Linked DNA regions of Homo sapiens: region 1 is linked to region 2. Evidence: fine-mapped expression QTL. A gene starts in region 2. The other region holds a variant in brackets. All regions are shown on one strand. Distances are from middle to middle. Region 1 has its middle 44 kb from the start of SARAF. Region 2 holds the start of SARAF (store-operated calcium entry associated regulatory factor).

What was found. PIP is the estimated chance that this variant, and not a neighbour inherited with it, causes the effect. A credible set is the group of variants that fine-mapping cannot tell apart.
Region 1: its variant is the best candidate, but not a certain one, in a credible set for the expression of SARAF in lung (TOPMed, PIP 0.55).

What each region holds. Positions count from the first base shown.
Region 1 is chr8:30,030,690-30,046,721 of GRCh38, forward strand. It overlaps the pseudogene RNU6-1218P. Among named protein-coding and RNA genes, the nearest start is that of SARAF, 44 kb to the right of the region's middle. RefSeq lists an enhancer at 2,654-3,475. The variant C/T (reference allele first, on the strand shown) is at 8,628.
Region 2 is chr8:30,074,960-30,090,991 of GRCh38, forward strand. SARAF (store-operated calcium entry associated regulatory factor) reads right to left here and starts at 8,105. Exons shown (of 6, transcript NM_016127.6): 1 at 7,888-8,105. The coding sequence starts at 7,990. RefSeq lists enhancers at 1,497-1,546, 7,669-8,018 and a silencer at 8,059-8,428.

The sequences.
Region 1 (16,032 bases), 44 kb before region 2:
GAGGAAGGGAGGGGAGGGGAGGGAGGGGAGAGAGAAAGAAAAAAGAAAAGGAAGGAAAGAAAAAGAAACAAAGAAAGAGAAAAGAAAGAAAAAGAGAAAGAAAGAAAAAGAAAAAGAAAGAGAAAGAAAGAAAGAAAAGAAAGAAAGAAAGGAAAGAAAAAGAAAGAAAGAAAGAAAGAAAGAAAAAGAAAGAAAGAAAGAAAGAAAGAAAGAAAGAAAGAAAGAATAAGAGAGAGAGGGAGGGAGGGGAGGGGAAGGGAGCGGAGGGGAGAGAGGAAGGAAAGAGAGAGAGGGAAGGAAGGAAGCAAGGAAATGTTTTAGAATTAGTAGTTGCAGTAGCACAATCTGTGTATGTATTAGAAGCCACTAAATTGGCATACTTTAAAATGGTTAAAATGGGGAATGTATGTTATGTGAATTTTACCTCAATTTAAGGTGTGTCTGTGTACCATCGGATTATGTTATTCAACCTATGAATAACAGTCCATAGACCAGATTTAACACCCAGCTCCAACCAAATCCAAATCCAACCATTTGAATGAGGGCAAAAATTTTAGCCTCTGAGTCTCAGTTTCGTATATAAAAATGGGGTTGATAATAATGCCTGCCTTATAGAGTCCTTAGGATTAAATGAGCTAACAAAAGTAAAGAATATATCATGAGCCCTAGAATATAATAAATTCTCAACAAATACATAAACAGATGCACAGAAAATAGATAGCTATGGCTGGGTACAGTGGCTCATGCCTAGAATCCCAGCACTTTGGGAGGCCGAGGTGGGAGGATCACTTGAGTCCAGGAGTTTGAGATCAGCTTGGACAACATAGTGAGACCCTGTCTCTATAAAATAATGATAATAATAAAATGGCATCAGCAGTGGCTGGGCAAGTTATTTGTTGCTAGGAAAGACAAGTGTCATGAGTTTCCACTTTGCATAATGTGTTCACCAAAATTACAGCTCCACGTAACTTCCAGTCTCTTTCCCCATGCAAATATTTCCAAAGCCAACTTAAATCTCATCTCAATTAAGCCTTTCCAGTCACCCAAGCTGAAGATACCTCCTCTTCCACTGAGCTTCTCAGAAAAAGAAAAAAGAAATGAAGCAAAAAGAAAAGGTACCGCCAGGTGCAATGGCTCATGCCTGTAATCCCAGCACTTTGGGAGGCCAAGGCAGGAGGATCATTTGAGCCCAGCAGTTCGAGACCAACCTGGGCAACAAGGTAAGACCTTGTCCATGTAAAAACTAAATAAACAAATATTAAAAAAAAGAAAAGGCACTAATTTAAAAACCTCTGTCTCCTACCGTAACCTCTTTCCTTTGACATCATTTTCTCCATTTCCTCCCACATTTCTTTGATCTCATCGACATCCCAAAAACAATGACATTTCTACTTTTTTTTACCCAGCACATTCCTTCTCATCAAGCTACAATTCCATAGTCTAGCAAATGCATTTGCTGTCTTACAAATACCTTCAGCTCCTTGACCTTCTCCTTCCACAGCAGAACCTGAACTCTGCACAGATCCAATATCCACCTTACCTCCTCTATGCCTTGAACTTGAAACATTGGTTATTACTGGAGAAAAACACCCAGTTAAGCAGAATGGTAACAGGTCAAATTAGTAGTGACCAACCTCAAATTTACACTCAACCATGCCCAGAAATTTTCTTAAATTTCCTCTACTAAACCCTTCTCCCATTCTCCATTAGGATTTCATACCTCTCCACTCCACTAAAACTCTGACGTCCTGTTCCATGTAGCCTCAATTGATCATTCCTCACACTTCATGAAGAATACAGAACCCATCAAGTACCAAATCATCCCTCGTATTTTAACCACCAATTCTCCATCTGCAACTACAGTCTTCTTTTTCCGTCTATTACATAGAAATGCCTTTCCCATAATGAAAGTCATACTTCTCCATCTCTGCTCTAGATTGAATCCTCTTTTCACTCAGGGCCTTGCCGTGCACCAAGGTGTGAATATGGTGATCTGGGGGTTTTCTTTTACTTTTACATAAGTGATTATGGGGCCAGGCATGGTGGCTCATGCCTGTAATCTCAGCACTTTGGGAGGCCGATGTCGGAGGATCACTTGAGTCCAGGAGTTTGAGACCAGCCTGGGCAACAAAGTGAGACCCCCATCTCTAAAAATAAATAAATACAATATAATAAATAAAAGAAGCTACCATGGATTACTTACATAGTTTTTAAGGAAGAAATTAAGAGGGAGGTGTAATCCATTGTCATCAGAGAGTTCTGGCATCCTTGGAGAGGCTCTAACACTACATTGTCATTTCAGGTCAACATTCAGCCACCAATTCGGTTTTGGGGTAGGAATAGAAACTAAATTCTGCAGCCGGGTGCGGTGGCTCACACCTGTAATCCCAGCAACTTGGGAGGCCAAGGCAGGCAGATCATGAGGTCAGGAGATCGAGACCATCCTGGCCAACACGGTGAAACCCCGTCTCTACTAAAAATACAAAAATTAGCCAGGTGTGGTGGCACGCGCCTGTAGTCCCAGCTACTCAGGAGGCTGGGGCAGGAGAATGGCATGAACCCAGGAGGCGGAGGTTGCGGTAAGCTGAGATCACGCCATTGCACTCCAGCCTGGCAACAGAGCGAGACTGTCTCAAAAAAAAAAAAAATTCTGCCCACCAGAGAAACTGAGTAAACAAGTCTCATAAAGATCACAGGAAGTGCTACAGAATGTAGTTAACTATCTCTTGTGAAATAACAGGCCATATATCTCAAGTCTCTCCCATAGCTGACTTAATTGTTGCTAATTTTCTAATTTACCTAAATCACAAAAGTGAAATCAGAGAGATTACCTAATGACTGATCTGTTCGAAGACGAGTGAATTCAAAAGGCTTCAGCAGCACTGGAGAGCCTCGGGTGTGGGGAGGGCTCACCTCCGCAGGGCCACTTTTTCTTGTCAACGAATCACACAGTCAAATTACAGGAGAAAGTGACAGGAATTCGGCTAAATTCCAACTCCCGGCCTCAGAAGGTTATTCATCAACCCTGCAGCAGCAGCTCTCTGTCTGGCAGGGGAGGTTTCCTCTAATTATGTATCGCTCCCTGCGGGCCACCCGGCAGGACCTTTATTTTCTTCACAGTTATTAATCAGCTATCCAGTGTTAACAAGAAGATCAGATCCAGAAGTATGCAAATCCACCCTCAATTCTTTCTCCTAATCACTCAGCAGGCCACCTTAGGAGCTCGCTAATGAGCTGACCATCTGAAAGCCTCCTGCTAACTACCAAGTCTCCTATTCTTAATGATCACTTCCAAAATGGGATATTTTTGTTTCAAATACATAGGCCTATTCAATACCCTGAAATATATAACTTTTCAGCAACTTTCTGGCAAAACTTATCTAAATTAGGCAATGCTAAAACTGACTAAATTATAATAAAACCGAAGAAATGTCCAATGGGGAATTCAAATTCAACACCTGGGGACCTTCCTAACCCCAGAGACTGAGTCCCAATCTTTGTTACTTTTTTTTTTTTTTTTTTTTTTTTTTGAGCAGCGTCGCACTCTGTCGCCCAGGCTGGAGTGCAGTGGGGTGATCTCGGCTCACTGCAACCTTGCTGATACCACTCCAATGACTGGAGGAATACCAGGGTCCTCGGTCTCGTGCCGGTTTAAATAAAACGCACACACGTGGAGTGGTTTTAGGGATCGAAAAGTTTCATAGGCAAGAAAGAAGGAAGAAGAAAACAGCTCCCCCGTATAGAGACAGAGGGAGGGGTATTCAAACAAAGAGAAAACTCCGTGTGCGGCAGAAAAGTGGCTGCTTATAGGAAGAGGCCGGAGGAGGTGGTGTCTGATTTCCATAGGGCCCACCAGGTGTGTCATTTACATAACCCAAGAAAAACCTGGCCCTCCCACCTTAGCCCCGTAACATACAAATGCAGGTCGCCATGATGTTCTGAACACATGGTGTTATCTGGAGGTGGCCATGACAATTGCTACACCTGGTGACAAGGAAAAGATGGCAGGAATCGCCATATTGAGTGAACCCAGTTTCTAATGGCCTGTATTTGCATATTAAAGCTTGCTGGCCCAACCCTTCAAGCCACCATTTCTGTTAGAAAAGAGATGGTTCAGGGATTGTTTCTTATTCCAGGAAAATTTCCACCGAGAACCTTTACCCTTACTATCTGCCTAAAAATTATTTCTTAATAACTCCTGTATCATCACCTCCTGGGTTCAAGTGATTCTCCTGCCTCAGTCTCCCAAGTAGCTGGGATTACAGGTGGCCACCACCATGCCCGGCTAATTTTTGTATTTTTAGTAGAGATGGAGTTTCAACCATGTTGGCCAAACTGGTCTCAAACTCCTGACCTCAGGTGATCCTCCTGCCTCAGCCTCCCAAAGTGCTCACAGGCATGAGCCACTGCACCCCGCCCCAATCTGTGTTTCTATTATCAAAGTCTCATCCTTTGAATGTGTCTTCCTCTAACAACTTCAAAATAGGATCCCTGTTCTGAAGTAAGTATTACATTGAGCCTTACAAAACTACCAATCTAATAATTTTTTATCTACAAACATGGCGATTGTCAGGCCTCTGAGCCCAAGGTAAGCCATCATATCCCCTGTGACCTGCACGTACACATCCTGATGGCCAGTTCCTGCCTTAACTGATGACATTCCACCACACAAGAAGTGAAAATGGCCTGTTCCTGCCTTAACTGATGACATTGTCTTGTGAAATTCCTTCTCCTGGCTCATCCTGGCTCAAAAGCTCCCCTACTGAGCACCTTGTGACCCCCACTTCTGCCCACCAGAGAACAACCCCCCTTTGACTGTAATTTTCCTTTATCTACCCAAATCCTACAAAACGGCTCCACCCTTATCTCCCTTCGATGACTCTCTTTTCGGACTCAGCCCACCTGCACCCAGGTGATTAAAAGCTTTATTTCTCACACAAAGCCTGTTTGGTGGTCTCTTCACACGGACGCGCATGAAAGCGATTTTGTGGTTCAACTTAATATACTGGCCCTCAGAGTCTTTTGGAAAGGGATTGAGTTTTTTTAAGCATACAAATAAAGAATAATAATAATAAATGTAATAACTAACATTATTGAAGCATTCATTTAACCCTCACAACATTTAACACTCTCATTTCACAGATGTGAAAACTGAGCATAAAGAAGTTGAGTAAGGCCGGGCACAGTGGCTCATGCCTGTAATCCCAGAGGCCAAGGTGAGAGGATCGCTTGAGGCCAGGAGTTCAAGACCAGCCTGGGCAACATAGTGAGATGTTTCTATAAAAACTTTTTTTTATTATTTGTTTTTACTTTTTAAAAATTAGTGCACACATGTAGTACCATCTGCTTGGGAGACTGAATAGGAGATCACTTGAGCCTGGGAGATTGAGGCTGCAATGAGCCAAGAATGCACTACTGCACTCCAGCCTCAGTGACAGAGCAAGACCCTGTCTCCAAAAAAAAAAAAGGTTGAGTACTCTTCTCAAGGTCACAGACTGGCAAAGGCTAGATTCAACACAGGCTTGTCTGATACACAGCCATTAACCACTGTGCTGTATTTTCCGAAAAGTTTTTGTTGATAATGAAGGGACTCCCTCTGACCCCATATACTTTTCTAGGCATTGAAACTTTTACTTCTTCCACTGAGATCCCATAAGGGATAAAGTTGCACATGGGCACTAAGGGTGAGTCTACTGTAGGCAAAACAGGTATTGTGTGGGTGCACACATGTGCACATGCAGCATGCTCCTGTGGAAGTGTGTGCCATGTATGGAAATTAGGCTATGATCGTATGGTATGGACAACGACCTTTGATAGATTAGAATACTGAAGATTTCTAATTTTATGAACAGGACAGACTCAATGTCTTGAAAACTCTCCCACCATTAACACAGAGGAATGCCAGATGTAACATCCATTTGAATGCATAGCAACCAGCTGCGGTGGCTCATGCCACCCCATCTCTACTAAAACTACAAAAATTAGCCAGGCATGGTGGTACATGCCTGTAATCCCAGCTAATCAGGAGGCTGAGGCAAGAGAATTGCTTGAACCTGGGAGGCAGAGGTTGCGGTGAGCCGAGATTGCACCACTGCACTCCAGCCTGGGTGACAGAGTGAGACTCTGTGGAAAAAAAAAAAAAAAAGTAAAAACATTTGAATGCATAGTTAAGCTTACAAGAAAGTAGGAGAAATCCCCAGAGCTCAGCAATGAAGATTTGGTTTCTGAAAACCAGAGCATTATGTGAGTGAGCTGATGTGGCAACTAACCTGGATTGGTCGGGTTTATCTCCAACTTACGAAACGTTAGGAATTTGGTTTTAACATGTACACAATGATAAAGTGAAAGATCTTGAGACTGCCAAGTAGGAAGCTGAAGTAAGACCCACCCATCCTCCCTCCCCTGACTCCACATACAGCACAGGAAGAGTGGACTAGAAAAATATCTCTCTACCAGCATAACGAAATGACGTAGAAGTTTGTCTCTTCTGGCCTACCTAGACTCTGAATAGAAAAAGAAAAAAAAAGAAAAAAAATTAGTTTCCTCATCGGAAAGTCAATTATGGGTCAATGCCATGTGAGGACCCAGGAACCCCCAAGCCAAAAAATTAACACATAAATAGATCCTAGGATGGCTACATCACTGGAGCACCTGGCAGAAGAAAACCACACAGGAGGGACACACTCACCACCATTCTTACAAATAGAGCCCTGCTGAAGATGAACTCATAACATACAATCACACAACTCAGTACTTAATAATCCATCGTGAGCAAGAGCCAGCAGAAGTAACAAGCATGTAATAAAGTTCATTAGACTCTCAGAGCTTCAGGTTCCTGAATAATCAAATGAAGATGATAAAACAATTAAAGACATAAAGGAGAAAAGTAAACATAGAAGACAGTATAGAAAGGAAAAAAAAACTTCTGAAATGAAAAATGGAATCACTGAAACAGAAAACCCATTAGTCAAATTTGGCATCAGCTTAGACACAACTGAAAAGAGAAGAGTAGACTATGATAGGGCTCAGGAAATTGCCCAGAATGCAAAAGAAATAAAACACGGAAAGGGTTCAAGAGAGTTTAAGAGACACAGAAGAGAGAATGAGAAAATAAATATATATCTAATGGGAATTCCAGCAGAAACAAAGAGATGTGAGAGAGGTAATATTCAAAGAACAAATGGCTGAGAATTTTCTAGAATTAATGAAAGACATGAATCCTCAGATTCAGGAAGTATAATACAAAAAGTACCAAGTGGGAAATACAGAAATAAATCTATACCTTGTCACATTATAATAAACAGCAAAACACCAAGACAACAAGAAAATTTTAAACACCAAAAAAAAAGTAGATTACCTACAAAGGAATGACAAACAGCAGACTTAACAACAACAGAAACCAAAAACACAATATCTTCAAAGTGTAAAATTATAATTATCATCTAGGATTCTCTGCAGATAAAGGAGATAAACTATCACTAAAGAATGAAGGCAAACTAAAGACATTTTAAAGCAAACAAAGAATAAGAGAGTTGACCTCTGTCAAACTTTGGCTGAGAGGAATCCTAAAAGACATAATTTAGGAAGAAGGAAAAGAGGGCTGAGTGCAGTGGCTCATGCCTATAATCCCAGCACCTTGGGAAGCTAGGGCAAGAGGATTGCTTGAGGCCAGGAGTTCCAGACTAGCCTGGGCAACACAGCAAGACCCTGTCTCTACAGAAATATTTAAAAATTACCCTGGCATGGCAGCATGCACCTGTAGTCCCAGCTACTCAGGAAGCTGAGATGAGAGGACCGCTTCAGCCCAGGAATTCCGGGCTATAGTGAGCCATGATCACGCCACTGCACTCCAATTTGGGCCACAGAGAGAGATCCTGTCTCTAAAATGGGAGGGAACAGAGGGAGAGGGAGGGAGGGAGGGAGCCCAGAGGAAAGGAATAAGATGCAAATGTGTCAAATGTGGGTAAATCTAAGTAAGCATTGCTCATATAAAACAATAAAAAGTAACAAATTTGTGGAGGAAACAAAACATTGTGAAACTAGAATATTAGCTATGAATAACCTATTATTGGGACTGTTTCAAGAAGATTATTTTCTAGTTCTAGAGGAGGCTGGTGATGCTGATCAATTTCAGCCTGTCTTAAATCAAGACGCAAGTTAAATGTAAGAAATAGAAATTGAATGCATGATGTCGTTAGTTAAAAAGAAAAATGTGAATTTAAAAAAACACACTTAAAGCAAGACAAAAAAGGAGCAAAGAAAAAGCATAGTAAATAGAAAGCACAAAAGAGGACAGGAAGAAATCTAAACATGTAAATAATTGCAATAAATGCAAATGGATAAAATTCATTATTAATAGAGAATCAGCCTTTCAGAATTCATGTATGGCTGGGTATGGTGGTTCATGCCTGTAATCCCAGCACTTTGGGAGGCCGAGGCAGGCAGATCACCTGAGGTCAGGAGTTCGAGACAATCCTGGCCAACATGGTGAAACATCGTCTCTATTAAAAATACAAAAATTAGCCAGGTGTGGTGGCGCAAACCTGTAATCCCAACTACTTGGAAGGCTAAGGCACAAAAATCGCTTGAGTCCAGGAGACGTAGGTTGCAGTGAGCTGAAATCACGC[C/T]ACTGCACTCCAGCCAAGGTGACAAAGTGAGACTCCATTTCAAAAAAAAGTTTTTTAATTAAAAAATTAAAATGCAGGCATAAGCTGCTTACTAGAGACACAGTGGAATACAGAAAAGTTACAACTAAAGATGTAAAAATATATTACAAGTAAATATCATCGAAACTACTGATAGAGCTATGTTAATATTTTAAATAAGACTTTAAGTCCAAAAGAATTATTATGAAAAAGTAGATGAATGATACACCACCAAAAACATATAACAATTCTGAACATGTACTCAACTAATAACAGTATCAGAATATGAAGTAAACATGAGTAAAATTAAAAGGAAAGTTTTTAAACCCATTGTGAAACTGGGAAATTTTAACAAAAGTACCTCAATAGTAAATAAAGCAAATGGACAAAAAAAAAAAAAAAGTAAACAGAGGTCGGGCACGGTGGCTGATGCCTGTAATCCCAGCACTTTGGGAGGCCAAGGTGGGCAGATCACTTGAGGTCAGGAGTTCGAGACCAGCCTGGCCAATGTGGTGAAACCCCGTCTCTACTAAAAATACAAAAATTGGCCAGGCATGGTGGCAGGCGCCTGTAATCCCAGCTACTCTACTTGGGAGGCTGAGGCAGGAGAATTGCTTCAACCGGGGAGGCAGAGTTCGCAGTGAGCCGAGATTGCGCCACTGCACTCCACCCTGGGCGACGGAAAAAGAAAACACACACACACACACACACACACACATATATATATATATATATATATAAAATATATTATATATCAGATTATATAATATACTATAATAGTTATAGAATAATGATTGTAATACATAAATATAATAGATATATGGATATAGATAGTCTATATACACAAACACATATATATACCATATCAAGCTAATTTATTTTTTTCTCTGATTTTCTTTTTTTCTTTTTTTTATTTTTTTTTATTATACTTTAAGTTCTAGGATACATATGCACAACGTGCAGGTTTGTTACATATGTATACATGTGCCATGTTGGTGTGCTGCACCCATTAACTCGTCATTTACATTAGGTATATCTCCTAATGCTATCCCCCCTCCCCAATTTATTAACATATATAAAATATATAAAGTGTGTGTGTGTATATATATATACCACAGACAAAAATCAGCAAATACATGTGCTATTAAAACATAAACAGAATACTTTAGAGTATTTGAACATGTATTTGGTCTCAAAGTAAATCTCAAAAAGTTTTAACAAGCCAATCCTAACAAGATTCAAATAAACTGGAAACCAATAACAAAAAAGTAACAAAAAAATTATATAAAGAAATGTTAAAATACGCTTCTAAATAACTCTTATTTTTTTATTTACTTTTTAATTGAGACAGAGTTCTCACTCTGTTGCCCATACTGGAACGCAGTGGTGCGATCTCGGCTCACTGCAACCTCTGCCACCCAGGTTCAAGCAATTCTTGTGCCTCAGCCTCCCGAGTAGCTGGGACTACAGGTGCACGCCACCACACCAGGCTAAATTTTGTATTTTTAGTAGAGATGGGATTTCACCATGTAGGCCAGTCTGGTCTTGAACTCCTGACCTCAGGTGATCCACCCGCCTCGGCCTCTCAAAGTGCTGAGATTACAGGTGGGAGCCACCACGCCCTGTCTGAGTAAATCTTAAGTCAAAAAAAAAGTATAATGGAAATTAGAAAATAGTATGCATCAAAACGTATAAGATGCCGCTAAAGTTCTGCTTAGGAAAAAATGCATAGATGTCATTGATCATAATTGAAAAAAATAAAAATGACAATAGGGGAGCTAAACTTCATATATGTTATATATTGCTATGTTACAAGCTAGGCTGAAACTTAGTGGCTTAAAGACATAACAATTTATTATTTCTCCTGAATCTGTAGGATGGCTGGGCAGTTATTCTGTTGACCTTACCTGCATGTCCTGATGTGGCTACATTTGTTGGCAGGGACTGGGCTCCACTGGGATGGCTAGACCTCTGTCTATTTGATTTTATATCCTTAAGGCGCCTAAACTGGCCTTTTTCACATGGCAACATAAATGTCCACAAGGGAATCCCCAGTGCAAAGTGCTTATCAAGTCTCTGCTAGCCTCTTATTTGCTTATGCCCTGCAAGCCAGAGAAAGTCACATGGCTGGGCACGGTGGCTCACGCCTGTAATCCCAACACTTTGGGAGGCCGAGGCAAGCAGATGACTTGAGGTCAGTAGTTCGAGACCAGCCTGGCCAACATGGTGAAACCCCGTCTCTGCTAAAAATACAAAAATTAGCCAGACCTGGTGGCGAGCGCCTGTAATCCCAGCTACTTGGGAGGCTGAGGCAGGAGAATCACTTGAACCCAGGAGGTGGAGTTTGCAGTGAGCCGAGATCACACCATAGCACTCCAGCCTGTGCGACAGAATGAAACTCCATCTCAAAAAAAAAAAAAAAATGTCATATAGCCAACTCCAGCATCAAGACAGGAAGACTGCAAGGGTTTGGATACTAAAAAGAGAAATTCACTGGAGGCCTTTAATATATAACACTCTCAGCCAGGCACAGTGGCTCACTCCTGTAATTCCAACACTTTGGGAGGCCCAGGCAGTTAGATGGCTTGAGCACAGGAGTTCGAGATCAGCCTAGACAACATGGCAAAACCCCATCTCTACAAAAGATACAAAAATTAGCCAGGTGTGGTGGCACGCACCTGTAGTCCCAGCTACTCAGGAGGCTGAGGTGGGAGGATGGCTTGAACCTTGGAGGCAGAGGTTGCAGTGAACTGAGATCGTGCCACTGGGCCTGGACGACAGAGCCTGGGCGCCCAGCCTGGGCGATAGAGCCACACTTGGCAAAAAAAAATAATAATAAATACATATATATAATATATATACATGCACACATACATAAAACAATCTCTATCACAGTCTTCCCTCCACCTCAATGATTGATACCCCTCCCGCATGCAAGGGGCATTTATCCCCAGTCAGGACTCCGAAGTCTCACTCAATCATGTCATCAGGGACAACGTCCATGACAACATGATCTGCAAGGTTCAAATGTAGATGACGCTTCTCAAGTCCAACTTCTCTGGATCCAGAGACCCATGTACTAAAAAGACAAGTTATCTGCTCACATACGCACCCAGCATACAATGGTGAGGCAGAGATAGGACAGTCACAATAGACACCCCCCTCCAAAAACAAAAAGGAGTAATGGAAGGCATATAGTAACCACCAACCCATAGCCAGACAAATTTGATTAAGACCCTGGATTAACCCACTTGGGCTGCTATAACAAAATACACAGAAGGGATGGCTTAAGCAATATAATATTTTTAAGCAGCCTTTAATTTTTATTCTAAAAAAGTTTGAATTTACACAAAAATACAGAGAATAGTATAGTTAACCCATTATGTCTGTCATCTAGCTTCTTTTTTATTTTTCAATAGTTTTTGGGAAACAGGTGGTGTTTGGTTGCATGGAAAACTTCTTTAGTGGTGATTTCTGAGATTTTGGTGCACCCATCACTCAGGCAGTGTACACTGCACCCAATGTGTAGTCTTTTATCCCTCGGCTCCCTCCCACCCTTTCTCTCGAGTCCCCAGAGTCCATTTTAAAATATGGAATGTTGGCCAGGCGCAGTGGCTCACGCTTGTAATCCCAGCACCTTGGGAGGCCAAGGCAATCAGGTCACTTGAGCTCAAGAGTTCAAGACCAGCTTGGGCAATATGGTGAAACCCCGTCTCTACCAAAAATACAAAAACACTATTAGCCAGGTGTGGTGGCACATGTCTGTGGTCCCAGCTACTTAGGAGGCTGAGGCAGGAGGATCACTTGAACCCAGGAGATGGAGGTTGTAGCGAGCCAAGATTGTGCCACTGCACTCCAGCCTGGGAAACAGAGCTAGACTCCATATATATATATATATATATATATATATATATATATATATATATGGATGTGTGTGTATATATATGTATATACATGGATGTATATATACACATATACACATATATGTATATATACACATATATGTATATACACATATACACATATACACATATATGTATGTGTACACATGCACATATATACATATATGTATATATACATATATACATATATGTATATATACACATATACACATATATGTATATGTACACATATACATATATATGTATATGTACACGGATACACATATATGTATATGTACACGGATACACATATATGTATATGTACACGGATACACATATATGTATATGTACACAGATACACATATATACATATACACATATGTACACACGTATGTATGTATACACACATATACACATATATGTATATACACATATGTACATACATGTATATACACATATATGCACATATACACATATATGTATATACACGTGTGTGTATATACACGTGTGTATATACACATATATGTATATATACACATATATGTGTATATACACATATATGTGTATATACACATATATGTGTATATATACATATATATCTTCAAAAATTTGCATGCCATCCTTGCACAGCCACCACGCTAATCTTCTCTGTATCATTCCAATTTTTAGTATATGTGCTGCCAAAGCAATCACAACAATGGAAATTTATTTCTCAGAGTTCTAGAGGCTGGGAAGTCCAAGATCACAGTGCCAGCCAACTTGATTCCTGGTGAGGGTGCTCCTTCTGGTTTGCAGACAGCTGTAAAGCTCTGGTGTCTCTTCCTCTTCTTATAAGGACACCAGCCCTATTGGATTGGGGCCCCATTCTTATGACCTCATCTAATCTTATTACCTCCTCATAGGCACTGTCTCCAAGCATAGTCACACTGAAGGACAGAGCTTTAACATATGAATTTGAGGGGAGACATAATTCAGGCCATGCCAGACACCCTATTCTGGAGGCAGAGAATGTTCCTAGTTTAGGGCCTAGTTTTACATCCTGGGAATGGTTTCCTAATCCACTATTCCTCACAGTTCTGGGCTTCTTCTGGCTCTGTTCTCCAAGAGTTCCTATCTACACAACTGCTTGGTAGAGTGCAATATCTAGTAAGGTGGAAGGTGCCTATAGCCTGTGATCCATAAATTTCAATTCTAGGAAGTAGGCCCACAAGTTACTAACGTTGTGACCTTGAGCAAATAACCTCTCTCTGTGACTTAACTTCCTTCTGTGCCTCAGTTTCCCATCTGTAAAATGGAGAAATAATATGGAGTTCCTCATAGTCCTATTATGAGAATTAAATCAATCGGTACTTGTCAAGTGTTTAGAACAGTGCTTGGCAGTTAATATGCACTGTTTTTGAAATAATCTCAACATAGATCTATTTTTTTTTAAATACTATCCAACAGTAAGAGAATAAATACAATAATTGGGTTAAAGCCATAGAGAAATATTATGAAGCGGTTGAAAGGAATGACCCAGAGGAATGAACATAACTTTATAAACTTATGTAAAGTTGTAATATATTCAAACTATTCTTCACATAATCGTGCATTTGTCTGTAATTAAAATTTTTTAATATTCATGGGAATGATGAACTCCAAAATTAGAATAGTGGTTACCTCTGGGAAAAGAAAGAGACTAATGAGTTTGGGGAGTGATACACAGTGCCTGTAACTATACCTAGTGACTTAGATTCTTCAAAAATAGGGATCTGATATGGCTGGGCACAGCGGCTCACATCTGTAATCCCAGCACTTTCGGAGGCCAAGGCGAGCAGGTCTCTTGAGGTCAGGAGTTCGAGACCAGCCTGGCCAACATTATGAAACCCGTCTCTACTAAAAATGCAAAACTTAGCTGGGAATGGTGGCACATGCCTGTAATCCCAGCTACTTGGGAGTCTCAGGCAGGAGAATCACTTGAACCCGGGAGGCAGAGGTTGCAGTGAGCCAAGAGCACACCACTGCACTCCAGTCTGGGTGACAAGAGCAAGACTCCGTCTCAAAAAATAAATAAAACAAGAATAGGGATCTGATATGGCTGCGCACAATGGCTCATACCTGTGCTTCCTCCAAATTATGACCCTGTAAGGCTCTGTTTTAAGACAAGCACAGGAGGAAGAGCAGAACACAGAAAGGAAGTTATTAAAGATGCCTTCCTGTGGTATACTAAGTGTCCATGTGAAGGATATCAAGATCCCAGCACTTTGGGAGGCCAAGGCGGGTCAATCACTTGAGGTCAGGAGTTCGAGACCAGCCTGGACAACATGGTGAAACTCCGTCTCTACTAAAAATACAAAAATTAGCTGGAGTGGTGGCTTGCCTGCAATCCCAGCTACTCGGGAGGCTGAGGCAGGAGAATGGCGTGAACCCGGGAAGCGGAGCTTGCAGTGAGCCGAGATTGCGCCACTGCAGTCCGCAGTCCGGCCTGGGCGACAGAGCGAGACTCCGTCTCAAAAAAAAAAAAAACTCTGTCTCAAAAAAAAAAATAGGGATCTGAAATAGCTATAAGATAGCAGGATATTTGATATACTATTCTCCGTGCTCTTCTCATATTTGATGTATTTTGTAATAAATTTTAAAATTAATAATTATTCACAAGAAAATATATAATTGAGCACTGAGGCTGAATCTCCTGTTTTGGTCTCTGCAGATGCCTGACACACAGAAGAGAGCACTTGCAGTCCAGAAGACCCACCCTTGTTCCACCCTTTCAAAATTTCCATCGTAACTGATGTCACTAGGTCAAGAAAACATCCCAGCAACTGAGCTGGGGAGGAAATTGAATAAGAATGTACTTAAGGGAGGTGGATATAGTGTAAAGTAGGACAGAGATTCTCAACCCTGTTTCCTCTACAGCATACCCGAGAAATGAAAGTCACATCTGAAACTTACTCCCAAGAGTAAGCAGATATGTTTTTAAAGAGCTACGATTAGCTAGGCCAGGCGCGGTGGCTCACGCCTGTAATCCCAGCACTTCGGGAGGCCATGGCGGGCGGATCACGGGGTCAGGAGATTAAGACCATCCTGGCTAACATGGTGAAACCCCGTCTCTACTAAAAATACAAAAAATTAGCCGGTCGTGGTGGTGGGTGCCTGTAGCCCCAGCTACTCAGGAGGCTGAGGCAGGAGAACGGCGTCAACCCGGGAGGCGGAGCTTGCAGTGAGCCGAGGTTGCGCCACTGCACTGCAGCCTGGGCGACAGAGCGAGACACCGTCTCATAAAAAAAAAAAAAAAAAAAAAAAAAAAAAAAAAAAAGAGCTAAGATTAGCTATGGGTTATGCACCGCTTCATCATCTGCTGTCTACCAGCTATAAGTCCACCTCTTTCTCTTCCTCATATCAGGAGGGAACAAAACCCCTGACCTAAGGTTTGAAAACAGTAAGTCATTGATGTTGGACATCTGACCTCCTGACCAAACTAGACCAGGGAACCAGGCTTGCCTAGCCTAGGGCATGGTTGTGGATAC
Region 2 (16,032 bases):
AGGAGGAGTCAAAACAATAAAATTATGTCTGGCATTCATGTGCAAAAATGAAATTTTTAGGTTGGGTGTGGTGGCTCACACCTGTAATCCCAGCACTTTGGGAGGCCGAGGCACGTGGATCACCTGAGCTCAGGAGTTCGAGACCAGCCTAGCCAACACGGCGAAACCCCATCTCTACTAAATATACAAAATTAGCCGGGAGTGGTGGCACATGCCTGTAATCCCAGCTACTTGGGAGGGTGAGGCAGGAGAATCGCTTGAACCTGGGAGGAGGAGGTTGCAGTGAGCCAAGATCACACCATTGCACTCCAGCCTAGGCAACAAGAATGAAACTCCATCTCAAAAAAAAAAAAAAAATGAATTTCTATGCATTATTGGAAAATAAGGACAAAGTCTTCCTATTTATCATGTTGTGGATTATTGATGGAAGATGCTGTGGATTGGCTCAGTCAACATCCACTTCACCCTCAAACAGGTATGCCTTCCTGCAAAGCAAAAGGAATCCCAAAACCTCTTGCAGCTATAGTTGCCAAAAGCAATTTCAGTTCTGCCAACCAGAGGGACTCGAGCAAAATCTGGAAAGCAGACCCTAGACTTATACAGTGCTCTGTCCTTCAGCTAGTAAACACAGGCATGGAGACCATGAGTTTTCAAACTGATAGTATCCTCTAATCAGCTTCCTGGCTGTCATGAAGCTTGACATGAACAATCTATTTTTCAATGTGGCAGATGTAATAGGCATCGCTTTCTACCATTTTGTGAGTACCCAATTCCCTATATTCAACCTGTCAGATTAGCAGAATTTGCAGCCTCCCAAAATTCTACTAAAACTATAATAAATACATTGTTTTGATGATGTGAATGACTGTGGTCAGGTAAAACGAAAGAGGAGATGACAGCAGAATTTTGGAAGGAGAAAGTAAATGGACTAGTGGTAGATGACTAGACCTAAGTGAAAGACAAATGCCAGAACAGCAAAGGGGGAAACTGAGAATCAACCTGATGTACATAACAGAATCCCTAAAAAAAAACAAAAAAAAAAAAACAAAAAACGGGAAATGGCAGCTCTGGAATGGGAGATGCCTGGAATACACACTACAGGGTGAAAGCTACTTGAGAGGAAGCCATATTCCCAGATCCTCTCCCCAACTCCACACTGTTCTAACTCCCTCTTCCCCACTAAGGAAACTGTCTGGAGATGTATTCTCTGGAGAGGATAAAACTGAAGGGATTTGCATTGGGGACCATCTGGCATAGTAAAGGGCATGGGGACAAAAACAACCAAACAGGGAACCCAAGTGACTGTGTGCACTCTGACTGCTGAAAGCACAGTTCTCCTTCCCCACATGGTGCACAAAATGCTAACAGCCATCCCCTTGTCCTCTGTGGGAGACTGGATGACTATTCCCTTGGTAATCTAACCAAGAAGAAGTACCTAAATACACTGACATCAGGAACTTCCTCCAAAAAAGAGCAACCTAGGTCACCCTGTTGTGAAGTTCAAAATCAAAAGTGCAACTGCACACTGATAGCTTCCAATGAGCTTTTTGGTTCCCCAGAATTAACCATGAGCAGGGAGCCAAGGATTACTAAAAATATGAGGAAAGTCCCTGCTATGGTTTGAATGTGTCCCCCAAAGTTCACATGTTGGAAACTTAATCCCCAATGCAACAGTGTTGAAAGATGGAATCTTTAAGAGGGCTCTGCCCTCATGAATAGATTAATGCTGTTCTTGCAGGACTGGGTTAGTTATCGCAGGAGTGGACTCCTGATAAAAGGATGAGTTAGGCCCCTTTCCCCTCTCTCACTCTCTCCCTTCTGCCTTCCACCATGGGATGACACAGCAAGAAGGCCCTCACCAGATGCTAGCACCTTAATATTGAACTTCTCAGCCTCCAGAACTGTGAGAAATGAATTCAGTTTTTTAATAAATTTCCCAGTCTGTGGTATTGTGTTACAGTAACATTAAACAGACAAAACAGCCCCTAACATGAAATACAGCAACCAGGACAAAACAACAACAAAAGGAAGCAGGAGGAAAAAAGAGATGACGCACAAGAAGAAAACTTTTTTAAAAACACTGTAATATCCTCAGAGAGATAAGAGAAAAAGACTGCGTTAATAAAACAATCATTTTTAAAAGGGATACTCAGAGAAAAAACAAGAGCTTTTGGAAATTAAAAACAGGACAGCCAAGATTAAAAACAACAGAACTGCCAGGTGCAGTGGCTCATGCCTGTAATCCCAGCACTTTGGGAGGCCAAGGCAAGCAGATCACTTGAGCCCAAGAGTTTAAGACCAGCCTAAGCAACATGGCAAAACCCTGTCTCTACAAAAAAAATTATAACATTAGCCAGGTATGGTGGCACACACCTGCAGTCCCAGCTACTTAGAAGGCTGAGGTGGGAGAATCACCTGAGCCTGGGGAGGTCGAGGCTGCAGTGAGCCATGCACTCCAGCCTGGGTGATAGAGTGAGACCCTGTCACAAAACATAAATAAATAAATACATACATACGACAGAACTGTTAAAAGAAAATCTTCTAGAAAGTAGAGCAAAAAGAGGCCGGGCGTGGTGGCTCATGCCTGTAATCCTAGCACTTTGGGAGGCCGAGGCAGGTGGATCACGAGGTCAAGAGATCAAGACCATCCTGGCGAACACGGTGAAACCCCGGCTCTACTAAAAATACAAAAATTAGCTGGGGATGGTGGCGCGTGCCTGTAGTCCCAGCTACTCGGGGGGCTGAGGCAGGAGAATTGCTTAAACCCAGGAAGCAGAGGTTGCAGTGAGCCAAGATTGTGCCACTGCACTCCAGCCTGGCGATAGAGCAAGGCTCCATCTGAAAAAAAAAGGAAAAAGAAAAAAGAAAGTAGAGCAAAAAGATAGAAAGTAGGAGAGAAAGGCTGGGCACAGTGGCTCACGTGTGTAATCCCAGCACTTTGGGTGGCCGAGGCAGGCAGATCACAAGGTCAGGAGTTCGAGACCAGTCTGGCAAATATGGTGAAACCCCGTCTCTACTAAAAATACAAAAATTAGCCAGGCATGGTGGCGGGCACCTGTAATCCCAGCTACTCAGGAAGATGAGACAGGAGAATCGCTTGAACCCGGGAAGCAGAGGTTGCAGCGAGCCGAGATGGTGCCACTGCACTCCAGCCTGGGGGACAGAGCTAGACTCCGTCTCAAAAAAAAAAAAAAGAAAGAAAGAAAAAAGACAGTAGGAGGAAAAAAAAAAAAAAGAAAGAAAGAAAATTACCAGTTCAGGACCAGTTCAGAAAGTCCAAAAATCCAACAAGGGCTTCTGAAAGAATGAACAAGGGAATCTGATTAGACAAACTCCAGGCTGTAATTCAAGAAAAGTTCCCACACTGAAGGACTTGAGTTGTCATACTGAAAGGGCCCAACAAATACCCAGGCCTGAGAAACAGACCACACAAAGGCACACGAAAAGTAAATTTTAGAACACTGAAGACAAAAAAAGATTCTACAAATTGCCAGAAGAATAGGGAGAAAACAAGCCATATAGAAAAGATAAGACTTAGAAAAGCTTCAGGTATCTCAACAGGATAGAAAAAGAAAATGGAGAAATATATTCAAAAACTCTAAAGGAAAAAGTCTGGCTGGGTTTGCCAACCATCGCTTTGCTAATGGTGGAACAAACTGATGTTACAACATCTCCTATGATGTATTTCCCACAAGTATTTAATATGAATCTAATCAATCTAATAAACTTAAGGTCAATACCCTATCTATATAAAAAATATATATAGAGAGAGAGACCTAAATATACTTCCAACCAGGAACCCAATAGGGTTTTTTGGGGAAAGAAATTATGTTAAAGGTCCTGTGGACAATTTTTTTTTGAAAAAGAACACATAGGTTACCAGATAGTAAAGGTTACTATAAAATTATTATCATCAGCCAGGCACGGTGGCTCACGTCTGTAACCCCAGCACTTTGGGAGGCCAAGGAGGGCAGATCACCTAAGGTCAGGAGTTCGAGATCAGCCTGGACAACATGGTGAAACCCCATCTCTACTAATAATACAAAAATTAGCTGGACGTGGTGGCATACGCCCGTAGTCCCAGCTACTTGGGAGGCTGAGGCAGGAGAATCACTTGAATCCAGGAGGTGGAGGTTGCAGTGAGCTGATATTGCTACCACTGCACTCCAGCCTGGGCGACAAGAGTGAAACTCCATCTCAAAAAAAAAAAAAAAAAAAAAGATTATAATCAAAATAGTAGGGAATTGGAACAGAGACAAGGAAATTGTGAAACAAAAGAAAGATCAGAAATAAATCAAGATACATTTGGGAATTCAGTAAGATGAAGTGGTCTTTTTAATTTAGTGGATAAAAGATGTCTTCTTTAATAAATAGCACTGGCATAATTGACTATGCAGCCACAAGAAAATCCACCTAAAGCTATATAAAAATTTAATTCCACATGGGCTACAGATCTAAAATTTCCAAGAACTATATTCAAATAAACCATGCTACATTAAACACAAACTACTACCTCCTCATACATAAAAAATAAGACAATGAAAATGTTCAATGGTTTAGAAAAATCAGACTGTATTAATCAACTAAATAACAGAAATAATAAATTGAATTTATTGTAACAGAGTTGCAATAATGCAAAGAACACTGAACTAAGTTGGTGTCACTAACTGGCTGTGACTTTGGCCAAGGCATTTAATTTACCTGTGTAGAAGTTTCCTCACCTACAAAATTAAAATATTATCAACCTTGAAATTTGTTGTGAAGCTTAGATATAATTTATTATCTGGCTGAGTACTTGAAGCATAACAGGTGATCAGGTATGATAAATATTACTGAAAGTTTTAAGATGGAATAGCATTACCATAATCCTATAGCATCTTTCTTCCCTAGAGATTCTTAAGGTCCAAGAACAAAATTCTAATACCCACGCCCCACTAGTTAGATCAGTCAAGGGACACAGGAGCTCCCTGAACTCCAGACTCATAAATCAAAATCACGGCAGGTCTCAAACAAGATAAACAAAACCAAACTCCCCTAAACCTGATCATCCCACATTCTTCCACATCTCAGGAAATGGTTAACTCCATGCTTCTAGTTGCTCAAGCCAAAAACCTTGGACTTCTCATCTTCTCTCCTCTCACTCCTACATCTGATCCTTCAGAAGATCATGTTAGCTCCACCTTCCAAACAGGTGACAAGAGAATCCAGCTACTCTAACCAGCTCTCTACTGCTCCTGCCCTGGGCCAAGCGGTCACCACTCTAAGAACTTACTGTACAATATTAAAATAGATAGCAATATATATTAATTCACTGGTTTCCCTGCTTCCCTCCTACCCTCTTCGGTCTGTTTTCCACAGAGCAGCCCAAATGAGCCTTTAAAGATATAAGTAATTTCAGGTCATTTACTCCTCCTCCCCACTTCAGGTTTCCAGTCAAATGTCACCCTAACAGTGACTTCCCTGACCAATGTACGTTTTTTAAGTCTCCACTTCTGCCCGCACACCATGTCCTCCTTACGCTGTTTATCATACACGGTGCATACCAATTTTCACAATATAGCATGTTATTTACATGTTTATCTGTTTATTGTCTATTTCTCCCCAATAGAGGTAAAGTCCTTGGAGGCAAGACACTGTTTTGTTCACTGCTATATTCCCAACACCCGGAAGAGTAACTTAATATAAGATTACATTCAATAAGGAATTTTGAAAATTCATTGGTAATCTCTTTAGAATGGTGCTAATTTTTTTTTCCAGACAAATTACTGCTCAATGTGAGCTAAAGTAATGGCATCCAAGTCAAACAAAAGATAAATTAGGGAGCCGATTAATGCTTTAGTAAAGGACTTAATAAATAGTATGTCAATAAAGTATCTTCATTTAAAAAGTTCCTCAAAGTGCCGGGTGCGGTGGCTCACGCCTGTAATCCCAGCACTTTGGGAGGCCAAGGCGGGCGGATCACCTGAGGTTGGGAGTTCAAGACCAGCCTGACCAACATGGAGAAACCCTGTCTCTACTAAAAATACAAAATTTGCCGGGCATGGTGGCACATGCCTGTAATCCCAGCTACTCGGGAGGCTGAGGCAGGAAAATCGCTTGAACCCAGGAGGCAGAGGTTGCGGTGAGCCAAGATCGCGCCATTGCACTCTAGCCTGGGCGACAAGAGTGAAACTGTCTCAAAAAAACAAAACAAAACAAAAAAGTTCCTCAAAGTAAACTTTGAAGTAGAATTTACATAAAACAATTGAGTTTACTCTGCAAAATATTGTGGTGCTTTGTGTTCCAGAACAATAGTTTTACAGCGTAGATAAACCAGGAAGTGGTTCATCTTTAATTTAAATTTGGTTCTTCTTTCATAGTTTTTATAGTTCTTCTGGCTCTTCAACTGTAAACTTCCTTTATTAAATTTATTTACGAACTGATTCAAAGTTCAACAAATTAAAGTTTCATTCTAGGTTTTCACTTGTAATTCTGATCAAGTCTCCCACTCATACACAGCTTTCTAGAAATACAAAAGAAAAACGTACAGACATTTAAATACAACTTGGCTTTTTATTTTTGGTAATAAAATGTCCACATCAAATGACTACTCAACGTGATGTGCTTGCAAATAGCACCTTCTCTCTCATTTCAGCATGTAAGAATAGGCTATTATAGAAATAAACCTGTTGCTTAAATTCGACAATGCAGGCATTTCCAATCACCAAATCACAAAGGCAATATGCTTTCCATGCCATCTTTACTTCGCAAAGCAAAAATGATGTTGTTTTCATTTTTTTTTTTTTTTACAGAATTCCAAAGTAACAGCATGCGTCATTTATTACATGGAAAAAGTCAAAATCTGTATCTAAGTATATAGACATATACGTATTAATTGCACGGAATATTACTGATCCCATGAAAATTCTTTAGACAATTTTAATACTGTACTGACATAAAAGAACCTCTTTCCTAAAACCCACTTATCATGTACCATCACTAAAAAAAACCGAGAAAATTATTTTTTAAATTCTTCTCTACGGTGAAAGCCAATGGGAAGAGCTGGTGCCGCGCGATGTACATCACTGCAATCGTCAGATAAGAGGCAGCGGTTCTCATAAAGACGCGGTGGCTCACGCCTGTAATCCCAGCACTTTGGGAGGATGAAGGCGGGTGGATCACGAGGTCAGGAGGTCGAGACCAGCCTGGCCAACATAGTAAAACCCCGTCTCTACTAAAAATACAAAAAAATAGCCAGGCATGGTGGTGGGCACCCGTAATCTCAGCTACCGGTGAGGCCGAGGCAGGAGAATCTCTTGAACCCAGGAGGCGGAGGTTGCAGTGAGCCGAGATCACGTCATTGCAGTGCGGCCGGGGCGACAATGTGAGACTCCGACTCAAAAAAAAAAAAAAGAGTGCAATCTGCGATTCTGCTAACAGACCTGCGAGGTCTGCAGCCCTGTCCGCTAAGGGTGACTCAGAGACTGCCAGTGGCAGGCAACGGCCGGCGATAGCAACAGGCAGCCATGACAACAGCAGGCCACGATGACATCACACAGCCATAACAACAAAGCAGATGCGCAGGTGAGTGTCCAGCTCTCCAGTTATACTCAGAGATGAGAAAGACGACAATGGGCAAATTCCGGGAGTCCGGGGCAGGGAGAAAGGGGACCTTAAGGATCTCCAGCCGTCCCGCCCCGCCCACTCGAGCAGTCCCTACCCGCCTCCCAAGACGCCTGGGAAGAGCAGTGGAACCAGGGAGAGCACGAACAGCAAAGAGGTCAGACATGGGGAATCCGGGCACCCAGGCTCCGGGAAGACGGCGCACGGAAACGCAGGGGAGCCTGCACCGGCTGACGGCGGCGGAAAAGGGCGAACGAAGCGCCTGAGGGCCCTGGCAGCACTCACCAGGGTCGTTCCAGCCCAGGGCAGGGCCCGCGGTCAGCAGAAACAAATGCAAGCCGAGGAGCAAGCAGTACCCGGCCGCTCCCGGCCCGCAGGCTGCGGCCATGGCGCTCGATGAAGATGGCGCCGGGCTGCCAGACGCCTACGGGCCGAACCTGGGTGCGGTAGCGCGCGCGACGCTGCGCAGCTACACCGCTACCCCTGGCGGCGGCGAAGGAACGGCCCGACTGCAGAGCTGCAGCCGCAACGGATCCGTGCGCCAACCCTACGTCACTGCCGCTGCGGCCCGTGGGGCTCAGTGAGTGGCCGCCGTGGGCCCCCGCCCCTGGAGCACAGCGCGGCTTGGGGCGGGGCGAGGCGGTGTGGGCGGGGCCAAGGGCCTGGGGAGGCACGGCTGGAGGCGGGTTGGAGGCGTGGCGCCGCGGTGTGGGCGGGGCCGAGGGCCTGTCGCCGCCGCGCCCGCGGGCGGGGCGAGGGCAGCGCGCAGCTTTGTTGTGTCTCGTCTGAGATTCGGGAAGCTTCTGTGCGTAGGCGATGCAGTTTGAGAGGCTGAAAACGTCACGACGCGAAATCTAAGAAATGTAGTCAAATTATGTATTATTAAAACCTCAATAATTGTACCAAGGGTAGTTCTGTGCTTTATTCAGCTCTATGTGTTCAGCACTTAGCATAGCGCTTGGTACATGGTTAGTGTTCTATGACTGGTTGCTAAATACAGAGAAGATTCAAGCGAAAAGTAACAGGGAAATACATTGTCTGGTTTCAAGGCTCAGAACCTTTACATGGTTCCTTGCGCATGGAGGCCGGAAGACTATAAAATGTCAAGAGGAGAAAATATCGTCTGAATGAAGAACCAGCCAGAGAAAACAGTTCTCTGGGCTTTTGAGGTCTAGCAGGCTTGGGTTTCTTTCATTCATTCATTCATTCATTCATTCATTCATTCATTCAATGAATATATGTTGAATACCTAATACGCACCAGGCACTGTTTTAGGCATGGATGGTACAGACAAGATCCCTGTACTCATTGAAATAGAATAGGACAAACGACATACCAATTAAACAACAAAAATAATAGGTAATGATAGGTAATAACATTGATGAAAAACAGGGTGATATAATGGAGCCTGGGGACACAACTTCAGGGAGGGCCTTGCTGAGGAAGTGGTTTTTGAAGCTTGGGACCTGAATGATGAGAAAGAACTAGCCGTACAAAGATCAGGGGACTCATCTTCCCATCTGGGGAACAGTGGATGCAAAAGCCCTAACTTTGTGTTTCGAGGAAGAGTTATTTGGTCAGATCCTATAAAGAGTTCAGTCCCACAAGATGGCCCCAACTTCAGACATCAATCACAAGTCTCAGGTTGTGACCTATGCTTCTGACCAACCAGCTATAAATTAGGGTTTCCAGGCCGGGCGTGGTGGCTCATGCCTGTAATCCCAGCATTTTGGAAGGCCAAGGCAGGTGAATCGCCTGAGGTCAGGACTTTAAGACCAGCCTGGCCAGCATGGCAAAACCCCACCTCTACTAAAAATAGGAAAAATAGCTGGGCGTGGTGGTGCACACCTGTAATCCCAGCTATTTGGGAGGCTGAGGCAAGAGAATCGCTTGAACCTGGGAGGCGAAAGTTGCAGTGAGTCAAGACTGCCCCACTGCACCTGGACCATGGAGAGAGACTCCCTCTCAACAAATAAATTGGGGTTTTCATAACCCCCCATCTTGAGTTCCATAATTTGCTAGAATGGCTCACAGAACTCAAAAAAACACTTTATGTTTACCAGATTATTATATTGAGCACCTATTAGTACCTAACAGTACCTGCCAGGCACTGTTATCAGTATTGGGGATACAGCAGTGAATAAAACAAAATTTGGGGGACAAGAGGCAAACAAGGCCATAACTGAAGCAAAGTAAGTTAGGGGAAGAGTGGAATAAGAGATGGCAGAGCAGTGGGGCCTCGGCATGGAACCAACCAATGCTGGGACCAAGGACTGAAATAAGAGATAATAGAGAATCTATGCTCAACATGTTAAGTTTGAGGTGACTATTAGGCATCCAGGTAGACGTGTCAAATAAATAGATAAACTGTAAAAGTCTGAAGTTCAAAACTAAGGTAAATTTGGTAGTTATGTTGTAAATATAAAGATAGCATTTAATGTCATGATGCTATTGTTTGAATGTGTCCCCCAAAGCTCATGTGTTGGAAACTTATTCCCCAAAGCAATAGTGTTGAGAGGGGGGACTCTTAAGGGGTGATTAGGTTATGAGGGCAGAGCTCTTAATGCTATTATCACAGGAGTGGGTTAGTTATTGGGGAGTGGGTTCCCGATAAAAGGGATGAGTTCAGCTCCCTTTCTCTTTTGCCTACCACCGTGAAATGACACAGCAGGAAGCTCCCCACCAGATGCAGGCCCCTGGACCTAGGATTTCCCAGCCTCCAGAACCATAAGAAATAAATCTCTATACTTTATAAATTTCCCAGTCTCAGGTATTCTGTTATAGCAACACAAAATGAACTAAGACATGTGGGAAGAGACACAGTAACATGAGAGAATTGAGATACCACAAAAAAGGAGGCCCAGGCTATGGAAACACTAACATTTGAACCTCAAGCAGAAGATTCTAGAAAGAATCTGAGAAGTAACCTCTGGTGAAGAAGGAGGAAGAACTAGGACAATAGGATATGGTAATTGAGAGAAAGAAAGAATGGTCAACAGTGTCCACTGTTGCTGAAAGCTTGAAGCAAAATTTGGTCTCTGAATTTTGCAATGTAGAAATCACTAATTACCTTAACAAGAGAATGTTTGTTATTTTAGATTCCCACCATGTACCATGTACAGTTCTGGACAGTCATGAACAAAAGATGAAAGGTTGTTATAATAAACATTCTAGTGGGAGAGGTAGCCAACAAATCATGTCATTTCAAATAAATAAGTGCTTTGGGCCAGGCACGGTGGCTCACACCTGTAATCTCAGCACTCTGGGAAGCCGAGGCTCAGGATCACTTGAGACCAGGAGTTTGAGGCCAATCTGGGCAACATAGTAAGACCCCATCTCCACAAAAAATTGTTTTTAAAAAATTAGCCAGATGTGGCCAGGCACAGTGGCTCACGCCTGTAATCCCAGCACTTTGGGAGGCCGAGGTAGGCAGATCATGAAGTCAGGAGATCGAGACCATCTTGGCTAACACAGTGAAACCCCGTCTCTACTAAAAATACAAAAAATTAGCTGGGCATGGTGGCGGGTGCCTAAGTCCCAGCTACTCAGGAGGCTGAGGCAGGAGAATGGTGTGAACCCGAGAGGCGGAGCTTGCAGTGAGCCAAGATCGCACCACTGCACTCCAGCCTGGGCGAAAGAGTGAGACTCCGTCTCAAAAAAAAAAAAAAAATAGCCAGATGTGGTGGCATGTGCCTGTAGTCCCAGCCACTCAAGAGGCTGAGGTGGGAGGATCACTTGAGCCCTGGAGGTTGAGGCTGCAGCAAGCCATGACTGCATCACTGCACTCCAGCCTGGGCAACAGAGCAAGACTCTATCTCAAATAATAATAAGTACCTTGAAGAAGAAAACAGAGCAATATGACAGGTAGTGCCATAACAAGTAGGATGGCCCAGAAAAGATTCTCTGAGAAATTACCATTTGAGCTGAGAGCTAAATGATGAGGCTGTAAAAGGAAAAAACAAACTGTTTTCTCCTTTCTACTGGCACAAAACACAGAGCAGTTCTGTGACCAGAAGAGGGGCTGGGGGAGTATTTCCCTACACACCAACCAACTCTAAAGGACATCAACACGATGTCCTATAACTCAATTCAAGTTAAGGGCCCAGTCTCCCACAAGACTGCCCCAATTCAGACGTCAGTCCAGGAAAATATTTTATGTTTACCAGTTTATTGTAAAGGATTTATAAAGGATACAGATGAACAGCCAGATGAAGAGATGGATAGGGCAAAGATAAGAAGGCCATGGGGCTTCCATGCCCTCGCTGGGCACTCCACCCTCCCAGCACCTCCCTGTATTCAGCAACCTAGAAGCTCATGAAATCTTGTTGTCTAAGAGTTTGTATAGAGCTTAATCTCCAGCCACCCGCCCCCGATCTCTCCTGTTGGTTGGTGGGTGGGCTGAAATTTCCAACCCTCTAACACTCTAATCACATGGTCTTTCTGGTGACTGACTTTTTGGTGTCTGTAAACAATACAGTATAACAACTATTTACATAGTATTTACATTGTTATTAGGTATTATAAATAATTTAGAGATTATTTAAAGTATACAGGAGGGGCTGGGTGCGGTGGCTAACACCTGTAATCCCAGCACTTTTGGAGGCCCGAGGTGGGTGTATCACTTGAGCCCAGGAGTTCGAGACCAGCCTGGGCAACGTAAGAAGACCTTGTCTCTACAAAAAAAAAAAAAAAAAAAAATTAGCCAGGCATAGTGGTGCATGCCCGTGGTCCCAGCTACTCGGGAGGCTGAGGCAGGAGGATAGCTTGAGCCTGGGAGGCAGAGGTTACAATGAGCCGAAATCACACCACTGCACTCCAGCCTGGGTGACAAGAGTGAGACCCTGACCCAAAAAAAGATTTTTTTTCCTCTGAGCTTTCTCTGAATCAACCTGTAAGAGTTAGTAATTCTCAGTTTACAAAATTGTGAAGAGGATTAAATGAGATGAATGCTAAAGCACCAGGCAAATAGCACCTGCTGAAAAAGTAAGAATTCCCTTCCTCTCATCCACATTCTCATCTCCACCATTTAACTTTGGAGAATGGAAAACCATCCATATAAGAAGTATTGAAACTGAAAGGTAACACTAATTAGCTATTACATAACAATAGAGAACATTTAAAGGATATGACATTAACTAGCATTTAGGGTTCCCTTGGAAAACTGGTGGAGAAAACTGACATTCTACCTTTTTTCCGACAATGACTTTCAAGCTTTGCTTTAGTTTGCACAGGAATTGTTTGAGATTCTTGTTAACTTTTCAGATTCCGGGCTTTACCCACAAGAGTTCTAAATTCAGAAGGTCGGGAGTAGCAGTCAAGAATTTGGAAGGCATCCCAAAGTATTCTGCTTTAGGTGGTCCTTGAAATACAACATTTAGACACACTGTTTTTAAGGTCTCAAGTGACTGTGAGAGGTGACAACGTGCTAGCAGCCCTCGCTCACTCTCGGCGCCTCCTCAGCCAGGACGTCCGCTCTGGCCGCGCTGGAGGAGCCCTTCAGCCTGCCGCTGCGCTGTGGGGGTCCCTCTCTGGGGCTGGCCGAGGCCGGAGCCGGCTCCCTCCTCTCCCGGAGAAGTGTGGAGGGAGAGGCGCGGGCGGAACCCGGGGCTGCGCCCGGCGCTCACCGCTCGCGGGCCGGCGCAGGTTCCGGGTGGGCGCGGGCTCCACGGGCCCAGCACTCAGCGCAGCTGGCCGGCGCCTGCTGGGCTTGATCAGAGGCTGGGTCCCGTGCGTGCACCGCCATTCCCTCTTCGCAGGGTCGTTGGCCAGAATGGCGGGTCTCCCTCTCTTTCTCGCTTCCCCTCTTTTCCTCTTGGTTGTCTGGGACAAGCTCCTTCTGGGCTACTGGAGCACCCGGGGTAAGTGCCGCAAAATCCCGCGAAGAGCGCCAGTGAGAGGTGAAGCCGGCTAGGCTTCTGGGACCGGTGGGGACTTGGAGAGCTTTCTGTCTAGTTAAAGGGCTGTAAATGCACCAATCAGCACTCTGTGTCTAGCTAAAGGTTTGTAAACACAACAATCAGCCTCTGTGTCTAGCTAATCGGGTGGGGACTTGGAGAACTTTTGTGTCTAGCTAAAGGATTGTAAACGCACCAATCAGCACTCTGTGTAGCTAAAGGTTTGTAAATGCACCAATCAGCACTCTGTCAAAACGGACCAATCAGCTCTCTGTAAAATGGACCAATCAGCAGGATGTGGGTGGGGCCAGATAAGGGAATAAAGAAAGGCCACCAGAGCAGCAGCGGCAATCCGCTGGGGTCCCCTTCCTGGGTGTGGAAGCTTTCTTATTTTGCTTTTTGCAATAAATGCTGCTGCTGCTCACTGTTTGGATTTGTGCTGCCTTTATGAGCTGTAACACTCATAGCGAAGGTCTGCGGCTTCATTCCTGAAGCCAGCGAGACCACGAACCCACTGGGAAGAACAAACAATTCCAGACGGGAGGAACGAATAGCTTTGGACGCGCCACCTTTAAGAGCTGTAACACTCACTGCGAAGGTCTGTGGCTTCACTCCTGAAGTCAGCGAGACCACGAACCCACCAGAAGGAAGAAACTCCGGACATGTCCGAACATCAGAAGGAACAAATTCCGGACCCACCGTCTTTAAGAACTGTAACACTCACCGTGAGGGTCCACAGCTTCATTCTTGAAGTCAGTGAAACCAAGAACCCACCAATTCCGGACACAACTGGTCCCTAGACCAGTAAACCAAAAATGGTCCTTAGAGTGATGAGTGTTTTTGTGCTGGAAACACTGAATCTCATGGGAAAGATAAGGAGCACAATCTCTCAGGATTCTGTGACCATGGAAGAAAAGAATGTAGATTCCTGTAACCTGATGAGTAATCCCAGTTGCCCATGAATGTTGTCAAGGACATCTGTAATGCCAACACATTTGTACTGAAAAGAGCAAATCAGGCTGGGGGTAGTGGCTTACACCTGTGATCCCAGCCCTTTGGGAGGCCAAAGTGGGAGGATCTCTTGAGTCCCAGAGTTCAAAACTAGCCTGGACAACATGGCAAAACCCCGCCTCTACAAAAAGTAAAAAATTAGCGGGCCATGGTGGTGCATATCTGTGGTCCCAGCTACTCGGGAGGCTGAGGCAGGAGGATAGCTTGAGCCCTGGAGGTGGAGGCTGCCATGACAGGAAGCTACCATGACTGTGATTGCTCCACTGCACTGCAGCCTGGGCAACAGGATAAAACCCTGCCTCAAAAAAAAAAAAAAAGGGAAATTTATCTTTGTAGCTATCTTATCCTACATAAGATAGCTACAAAGATAAAAATAATAATAAAAATAAATGAAAAAAATAAAGCTACATACCTACCTCACAATTTGCCCACAAGGATATTCCTTGTGGACAAAGGACAGAGAGAACTCAAAGTCATCCTTTGCTCACTGTGAGACAAATGCTTATCTGATTGCTTCCTTTGCCCTGTTTTTTCACTAACCCAGACTAAAGCATAAGTGACTATACCTGTAAATTGTGTATTCAGTGAAAGGCTAATCAGAAACTCAGAAGAGGCCAGACATGGTGGCTCATGCCTATAATCCTAGCACTTTGGGAGGCCGAGGCAAGTGGATCACTTGAGCTTAGGAGTTCAAGACCAGCTTGGCCAACATGGTTAAACCCGTCTCTAACTAAAAATACGAAAATTAGCCAGGTGTGGTGGCACATGCCTGTAATCCCAGCTACTTGGGAAGCTGAAGCAGGAGAATCACTTGAATCCAGAAGACAGATGGTGCCACAGCACTCCAGCCTCAAAAAAAAGAACAAAAAAATTAGCCACGTGTGGTGGTGGGCACCTGTAATCTCAGCTATTCGGGAGGCTGAGGCAGGAGAATTGCTCGAGCCCAGAAGTTGAAGGTTGCAGTGAGCCGAGATCGCACCACTGTACTCCAGCCTGCAGCTTGGGTGACAGAGTGAGACTTGGTCTCAAAAAAAAGAAAGGAAGAAAAAGAAACTCAAAATAAGGCAACCATTTGTCTCTTATCTACCTATGACCTGGACACCCCCTCCCCACTTTGAGTTGTCCCGCCTTTGCAGACCGAACCAATGTACACCTTATATACAGTTATTGATGTCTCATGTCTCCCTAAAATGTATAACACCAAGCTGTGCCCCAACCACTTTGGACACAGGTCATCAAGACCTGCTGAGGCGTGTCAAGGGTGCGTCTTCAACCCTGGCAAAATAAACTTTCTAAATTGACTGAGACCTGTCTCACATATTGTGGGTTCACAGAACAAAACAAGAAAAGGTGTTGTGGTAGGTGACATGTGGGATGGAATTATTCACTTCTCCAGGAATTCCACCTATCCATTCAAGATGGCTGGGGAGAAGGACGTATATGCCTGCTTCAGTAGTTTAGAGAAAGGAGCTGGTGGCTCACAGATTCCGTGTAAACAGCGTGTATTTCCATGGCATATGTTCAA